2 linked regions of the Homo sapiens genome follow. The protein of the gene in region 2 interacts with the protein of the main gene of each other region in a pairwise test. Each region holds a gene or a part of one and is shown on either strand. Other genes may lie near its edges.

Region 1 (4,925 bases), on a different chromosome or scaffold from region 2:
ATTTCCCAACGTCAACATCTGGGCTAGTGTATCGTATCTCATGTGGCTAAAGTAAAAACAATAATTTGTTCATTTTTAGCTAAGTAAAGCCTATTATTTTAATCATCATTTTTCAAGTTTTGTTTGCTTTATTAAAATTGTGTTGATAAGATTATTGATTGCTTTGGAGGTGACAGTAAAAGGACTTACAATTTATGAGGTAGGAGGATACTTTATGCAGGTGAGCAAGCTTTTTCATTTTACTTAAAATCATGACTTTCTTAAAGACATATTTCCCCCAATTATACTTTTGAAAGGAAACAAAGCGTACTTAATTTTTCCAGGTTCTCTTGCATAATACATAATTGAAAGAATACGGGTGGATGGCTTCACAACAGTAATGATGGCTTCATATCTGGGGGAAGAAAAAACAGAACGCTGATTTAAAAAAATGACTTAAAATATTTTATTTGTAATAAAATGTATATTTTATAAACATATAAGAAGTTTAATATTGTGGGCCTTTTAAAATAAAAACTACTTACTTTTTTTTCTTCTTTTTAATATATTTATCTTGGGCAAATTCTGTCTTGTCTCGGAATGTTGTACTATTTTCAATTAACTGCTGAACTATTTCCTATAAGAAAAGGAGCAAGTAGATTTTCTGAAACTTTACTTTCACAAAACAAGTAATTTCCAAAGGCTTCTTACCCAAGAATGGATCCAATGGTCTGATTCTCCAATCCCTTTTCCACAGAAGTCCAAATAGATGAACTTTATATTTCTATACTCTATTTGGAATTTATAATAAAATACAAGTACTTTATAACTCCACTTAAACCAACGTAAAAGAACAGAGATATCCAACAAAAGGAGAAGAGAGGTAAAGGAAACTAATTTCTGAAGACACTGGCTGAAAACATTACTGAAAATGAACAAAGTTAAATCCTGATATGCACTGTTATTACATTCTCTACCACTGACATTAGTAATGTCATTCACTTATATTCCTGTATATAAGACATAAAATCTTTGAAATGTTGAGTAACATGTACATTTCAACCTATTTCTATCAAAGCTATAACGTTATTTTTTTGTTTTACCTTAGGTACAGTCTGCTTTAAAAACCCAACAGTTTCCTAAATGCCAAACAGACAAAAACAAAACTAAAAATCCTTTGAATATTACCTCTCCTTTAATGCCCTTGTCCTTCAAAGCTTTTATGTCATCTTGAGTAAGTTTCTGAGATTTCCCATCATCAACTATATTTCGATTATCAGTGCCCGCTTCTTTAGTCTCTAAGGAAAGAAATTGCTCTATTGACATTTATGGTCTGAAATTATTTGACACTTTCTTTTTCTGAGTTCATATCCACATCCAGTCCATCAGCCACTCAAGTCTGGCCTCCCAGCTGCACTGCCCCCATCACACTATCCTTTCCTGCCAAAACTACTCCAAGCCTCTAAGTCATCTTCCTGCTCCCAGTCTTGCCCCCCTACTATCCACCTGGATGCCAGAGTGCTCTTTGTTTAAATGCAATTTGACTCATCTACCCCATGCTTAAAACCATACAGTGGCTTCCCATAGCAATAAGAATACACTCCAAAGATGACCTGCAAGGTCATAAATGATCTGGCCCCTGCCTATCATTCCTGGCCTGATCTCTTGACACTTTAGCTTCAGCCACAATGGCCTTCTTTCTGTTCCTTGAACACACCCAGCAAGGTCCCACAGCAGGCTTTTGGCACCTGCTGCTTCCTCTGCCTGGAAGGTTCTACGACAGATGTCTGAGTGGCTGGATCCTTTCTATCACTTGAGGCTGAGCTCATTCTCTTGCTTTACCAAATTAGTACACGCCCCTGCTTTATTATCTTCATAGCATGTGTCACTTCACCATCAGAAATCATGCTGTTTGCTTGTCTACTTGATTATTTTTGGTGTTCCAACTGGTAAGCACATTTTATACGACAGTCTATCTTATGAACTGCTATAATTGCAGCGCCAAATTATACCTGGCATATATTTGGTGCTTAGTAAAAATATGGATATTAATTTAAATGTATCTAAATAACAGGTTTGACTCAAAACTTTAACAGTATTTAACTTCAAATAATTACTTGTGTTTTAATTAATAAGATACTCTCAATGTTCATTTTAATAAATATAATTTTAATTAACAATAACAGCTTTTGGACAAGAGGTTGTTAAGAAATAATAATAGTAATAGCTAAAATTATGGGCCCTTACTAAAAGCAAGACACTATTCAGAACTTCCTATGAGTCATATCATAGAACACTCAATACAACCTAGGCATTAAATGTGTTTATGACCCTATTTTACATATATAAGGATATAAGACTCACAGAAATCAAATAAGTTGCCCAACGGTACAAGGCAAGTGATGAAGGTAGAAATTGAACTTAGCTGGATCCAAAACCAGACCTCTTAACCTCTACACCATATGCTAACCACCTCACAGCTGTTACATAACTTCTGGGCACTGAAAGAACTTTACATTATGTTCTTGCAATGACGCAGCAACGACTCATAGGATTAAATGCCTGGCCCAAGAACAGAGAACCATTTAATGGTGGGCTGGAGCCAGAATCCAGGTTATCTCATGGCCAAAGGCAGTACTTGCTTCACTCCACTGAGCTGCAGTTCTTAGATTATGAGTTAAGATTTCTTTTGGGATAGCATGGCCTAGCACTTGGGAATTAGGTGGAGGCTGAGATGTTTCTGACTAGTCAGTTGGAGAGCATCTATTTCACGCATCCAAAATGTGCACCTGCAGTAGGCTCTTCCCTCTTCTTCTTGGGCTGTAGACTTCCTCCACTGGTCACTTCAAATGCAGTTCCATAACTATGGCCAATGACGTTATCCAGGTAGAACCACTGTTTTTCGAAAGTTACTTTTCTAGGGAAAAAAAGTAATCAATTAACTGAATATCTTTTCTATCCAGTACAGAAAAGACATGTTCACTACAGTTTATTTCAAAAGTGGTCTCCACAATGGATGATCAGCAGCATTATCTCTGAACATAAAGCAACAAAGGAACTAGAGAGAACCTGGTTGGGATAGAGACGTAAAATTAATGAATAAGCCACAAGAACACTGAATTTTGGAAAGGGGAAGCAAAGACTCATCGAAGTAACAAGGATTTAACAAATTTCTTGGGCTTGGTCTGATCGGCCATTTTATTTGAAAATTATCTAATAAAAGCAAATTATACTTGCAAATAAACACTGACAATCTACACACTTGGAAATGGAGCCTAACACTGACAATGCTCTACTGAGGACCAGGCAACTTGAGGTTTCCTATGACATAGATTTTTTATCTTATTGCAATTTAAAAGAGAAATCCCACAGGAACACAATGCTTTCTTCTCAAAAGAAAACTAACATCTGCTGAGTGCCAACCAGGGGCTAGGCAGTGTGTGCGAGGTGTGATTCACACTTTTTGATTTAATTCTCACGGTAATCCTGGGACATAGCTCTTTCCAGAAGAGCAATCCGAGGCCCAGGGAGAAGTATCTTGTCCAAGATTCACAGTTGCAAGGTGTTGTTGGAGCTGGGATTCAAATTCAAATCTGTGTCTGACCCCAAGCCTCATTCTTTCCACTATACCACACGGTCTACTCCAGCAAAGACCTAAGGACGGTAGAAAGCCCACCTAGCTTCAGGACATGGCCCATGTGCACAGAACACTGAATTCTGGGAATCATGTGGTGGTTAATTCTGATTGTGCCCCATCCCACTCCTTCTCTTCCTTTCTCTGTGCCACCAGGAAGCTGATTACGACAGAATATACTGCCACATCACCCACGCTCCCGTGTCAGAGGCTTACCACCATTGCTGGTCTCTGGGTGTGTCACCTTTATTGGTTCCCTAAATCGGCCACACTTTTGAGTCACATCTTCATTAAAGCTTACTCAAACCATCTGAGGGAAATCCTGTATGATCGTAAGTGATTCAGATATGGCCAATTCTTGTTATTTGCTGGGTCCCTAGATACTTACATACAACAGAATGTAACAGACACTCAAAATATTTGCTAATGTAAACCTCCTCAGATGTTGCAATTCAGCTCAGCCCAGATGTGCACCCCCTATCCTCATCCTTTAATCACCTAGGTGCTTTGAAACACTGGATCTGGCCAGGTGTGGTGGGTCACACTTGTAATCCCAGAACTGTGGGAGGCCAGGTGGGTCACTTGAGTCCAGGAGTTTGAGACCAGCCTGGCTGACGGGGAAAAACTCCGTCTCTACAAAAAATAAAAAAATTAGCCAGGTGTAGTGGCACACACCTGTAGTCCCAGCTACTTGGGAGGCTGAAGCAGGAGGGTCACTTGAATTCAGGAGTTTCTCTACAAAAAGTACACAAATTAGTTACTGAGGAGGCTGAGGTGGAAGATTGCTTGAGCCCAAGAGGCAGTGGTTGCAGTGAGCCAAGTTCACGCCACTACACTCTAGCCTGGGGGACCGAGTGAGATCCCGTCTCACAAAACAAACAAACAGACAAACCAAACAAAAACACTGGATCTGAGATGGGTGGGTTTACCTCTCTGAGAGCCTATGTGATATGCAGAGGGGATGATGCGTGTCACTTAAAACTGGCTGGTTTGACAGGTCACTGCCCCAGTCGGGAATGTGGGGCCCCGTTAGAGGGATAAGGAGGCCACATCTTTACTGGGAAGGAGTAGGATTTGCAGAGTCTACTTCTCAGAGAGCCTGGACTGTTTTTTGCCCAATCAGATGAGTGTAGCCCCAAGGGTGATGAGGGAGTCTGACCTGGGATGCAGCTGAGCTGAGAGAGTCATTTCCTAAATAAAATGGAAACTGCCACTATGACTTCTGCGAAGAAGAGGGCCTGTTGAAAAGTATTTCCAAATAAATGTTTAGGGCAGTGGTCTCCAACCCTTTTGGCACCACAAAAGGGGAAGG
Region 2 (2,689 bases):
GCACCTTATATGGTCAGCGATGCCTGCCAGACACAGACGGTGGGGTGGGGCTTGGGGGCCTCCTGGGTGGCCAGAGTGGGACAGCAGGAAGGGCGGCTGTGATGGAGGAGCAGTGCTGGGGCTGGGCCTCAGCCATTCCTGTCCAGCCCTGTGGCCCATCCCAGCTGCTGTTTGTTGCCAATATGAAGTATCCACTGCCACAGGCTCCCCTGGGTGTTGAAGCCAAAGGGTGCAGGTGGGGGAGTCTGACCCCCTCCCAGGTGGGCCTAAGCAGGAAGGGGGTGGAGGAGGGAGGGGGGCATTGACCCTGAGACCACGCTGCGTCTGACCCCTGGGCCCCCACGGCCCTGGCTGCCCCACGGGGCCTGAGACCATCTCGTGCTTCTCCAGTCCCCGGGCCGAGGCTCCAGCCTTGGCCAGAAGCTGGGGTGAGCTGACCCAGAATCCCTGCCCTGCTCTCCCCAGCGCTAGGAGACCAGGCCAGCCCAGGAACCAGGGAGGTGACCCTGCTCTCTGGCCTCCTGGCTGATGTCACAGCACTGAGCTCAGCCCAGGCCTTCGTCCACTCATGTCCAAGAGGCGGGGCATCCCCCACCCAGCCAGAGCCCCTGACATGGGCTGCACTCGCTGAGGCCAGGCAGCGCTGCGGAGAGGAGCGGCAGAGTGGGTTGTCTGCCGCAGGCAACCAGGCAAGTGTGTCGGGGCTGGGGTGTGAATGCCAGCCTGTGAGTCCCGGAACTATGTGGGTACCCCTACCCCTCACAGAAGCCAAGGGCATGGAGGAGGTCCCTCCACAGTGACAACGGTGTGGGGTAGGGGAGGTGCATTCAGGACACCACCCAGGGACAGTGCCTATGTGATCACCTCTTAAAGGCTAAGCTTAGGGGCATTTCCCAAAGTGGGGACAGAGGGCAGGACGCCCAGGCTGGGGGCTCTCCTCGCCCGCCCTGGTGTCTGACAGCCTCAAGGAAGGAGCAGTGCCTGTGTCAGCCATGGGGCCCTTGGAGCTGCCGCTGGTGCCTAGGGGGCCTGGGTTTCTGCCCAGGCAGCCAGTGGCTGTTGGGAGCCTCTGTTTCCCCTGTGCTGGGGGCCTTGAGTGCTATGCTAGCAGGGGCCTGGCCCCAAGTGTGAGTGATGAGCAATAAACGTACCGTCCCCCTCTGTTCTGAGTGATCCCTAGCAGCCAAGGCCACCCCCAGCTGCTGTCTAGGCCAGCCCTACCTGCGCTCTGCCCCTGGTCCCTGCTCCTCCCTGTCCTGGTTTGGCATGATAGGCGCTCCAGTCTCCAGGACAAAGGGGCAAATGTGTGGCCACCCCCATCTGGCTGCAGAAAAGGCCACTCCTTCCTGGGGTTGGGGTGGTCCAGGAGTGCTGGGCCTTCTTCCACAGTCCTGGGCTGGAATTCAGTGTGGCTGCCTGGGTTACTTGTATGCGCCCCTGAAGGAAGGGTCCACTCCAGGCCGCCTGGTCCCTGCGAAGTGTCACACTGTGGGTCACCGGGGGCTGTGGCTAATGTGGTCCGGGAGGCCTGTGTCCCTGAGAGTTGCTCAGCCCTGCTCCGAGGGCTTGTCCTCTCCTTCCAGGACCCAGCTTCCCTTCTAACCTTGTTACTCACCTGGGGCACAGAGGAGGGGCCCCCAGTCAGGTTCAACATGGAAGTGGGTGACCCTAATGCCAGGAGCTTTGGGGTCAGGCTGTCCCTGGGGTGTCATGAACTGGGTGACGCACACCCCTGAGATCTCAGTTCCCCCAAGCCTGCCCTGCCCCTCCTGGCCACAGCAAAGGCCTGCATGGTGTCTGATGGGTGGACACCGGGAGGTGTTTCTTTGAGGCGCAGCTCCATGGTTTATAGGACACATAGGCCTCAGGCACCGTAGGGTCCAGGTTGTGCCCATTTTCCAGCCGGGGCTGGTTGCCCTGGTGGCAGCCCTGGGTGAGTCACCAGGGTCCGCACATGGAGAGCGGGAGGTCCCAGCCCACCCTTAGTTGTCACATGGGACAGAGTTGCTGTGTCAATCCCCTCGGCCCTGCTGCTCTGCCCTGCACACAGGCCCCCATGATGACCTTGAGCCTCCAGGCATCCACCCCCACCGTATGGCCCTCTAGACCCAGCTGGGCCTCACCCCACTCCCTCAGCTTGGATCCTCACGTGGCCTGGAGCCAGCATTAAACTCCTGTATGTCCTTCAAGACCCCTTCAAATGTCCTTTTCTCAGCATGCTTCCCCAGACATCTAATGCCCAGGCGGGAGAGTCCTGCACACCATGTCCCGAAGGAGTCCCCATAGCAGAGGAGCAGAAGGCAAGCAGCGCCCCAGTTCTGTGATGGGGAGCCTGACTTTCAGAGGTAGAGCTGGGCCCATGGCCGTGAGTGACCGATGAGCAGGCCCGGATGGTCAGCGCGAGTCAGCAGCACGGGCTCATCATGGGGCACGGATTCACCAGAAACTCCCTGCCTGGCCCAGTGTGTACTCGCCTGTGGCCCTCAGATTTTCCCTGGCAATTCCTCCCCGCTCACCCTGCTGTCCTGCACTGAGACAGTGGCACATGACTCCCAGCTGCCCAAGCCCTGGAAGGTCCCAGACCCTGGCTCTGACTCAGCTGCTTGGAGGGTCCTAGTCCTGGGAACTGCCCTAGAGCCGAGATTAGAGTACCCCTCCCTCAGGAAGCCCCGGGGTGTCAGCTGCTCCT

Evidence for each region. Proteins that work in one complex are often made in the same cells at the same time.
Region 1: the proteins of TRMT61A (region 2) and TRMT6 interact in binary tests that used the Homo sapiens proteins (3 or more experiments, as listed by UniProt).

Annotation. Positions count from the first base shown.
Region 1 is NC_000020.11:5,943,638-5,948,562, forward strand, and holds part of TRMT6 (tRNA (adenine(58)-N(1))-methyltransferase non-catalytic subunit TRM6), read right to left. Parts: intron 2,897-4,925; coding exon 2,769-2,896; intron 1,278-2,768; coding exon 1,168-1,277; intron 617-1,167; coding exon 525-616; intron 395-524; coding exon 311-394; intron 47-310; coding exon 1-46. UniProt on the Homo sapiens protein: Substrate-binding subunit of tRNA (adenine-N(1)-)-methyltransferase, which catalyzes the formation of N(1)-methyladenine at position 58 (m1A58) in initiator methionyl-tRNA.
Region 2 is NC_000014.9:103,534,885-103,537,573, forward strand, and holds the end of TRMT61A (tRNA (adenine(58)-N(1))-methyltransferase catalytic subunit TRMT61A), read left to right. Parts: 3' UTR 1-2,189; downstream 2,190-2,689. UniProt on the Homo sapiens protein: Catalytic subunit of tRNA (adenine-N(1)-)-methyltransferase, which catalyzes the formation of N(1)-methyladenine at position 58 (m1A58) in initiator methionyl-tRNA.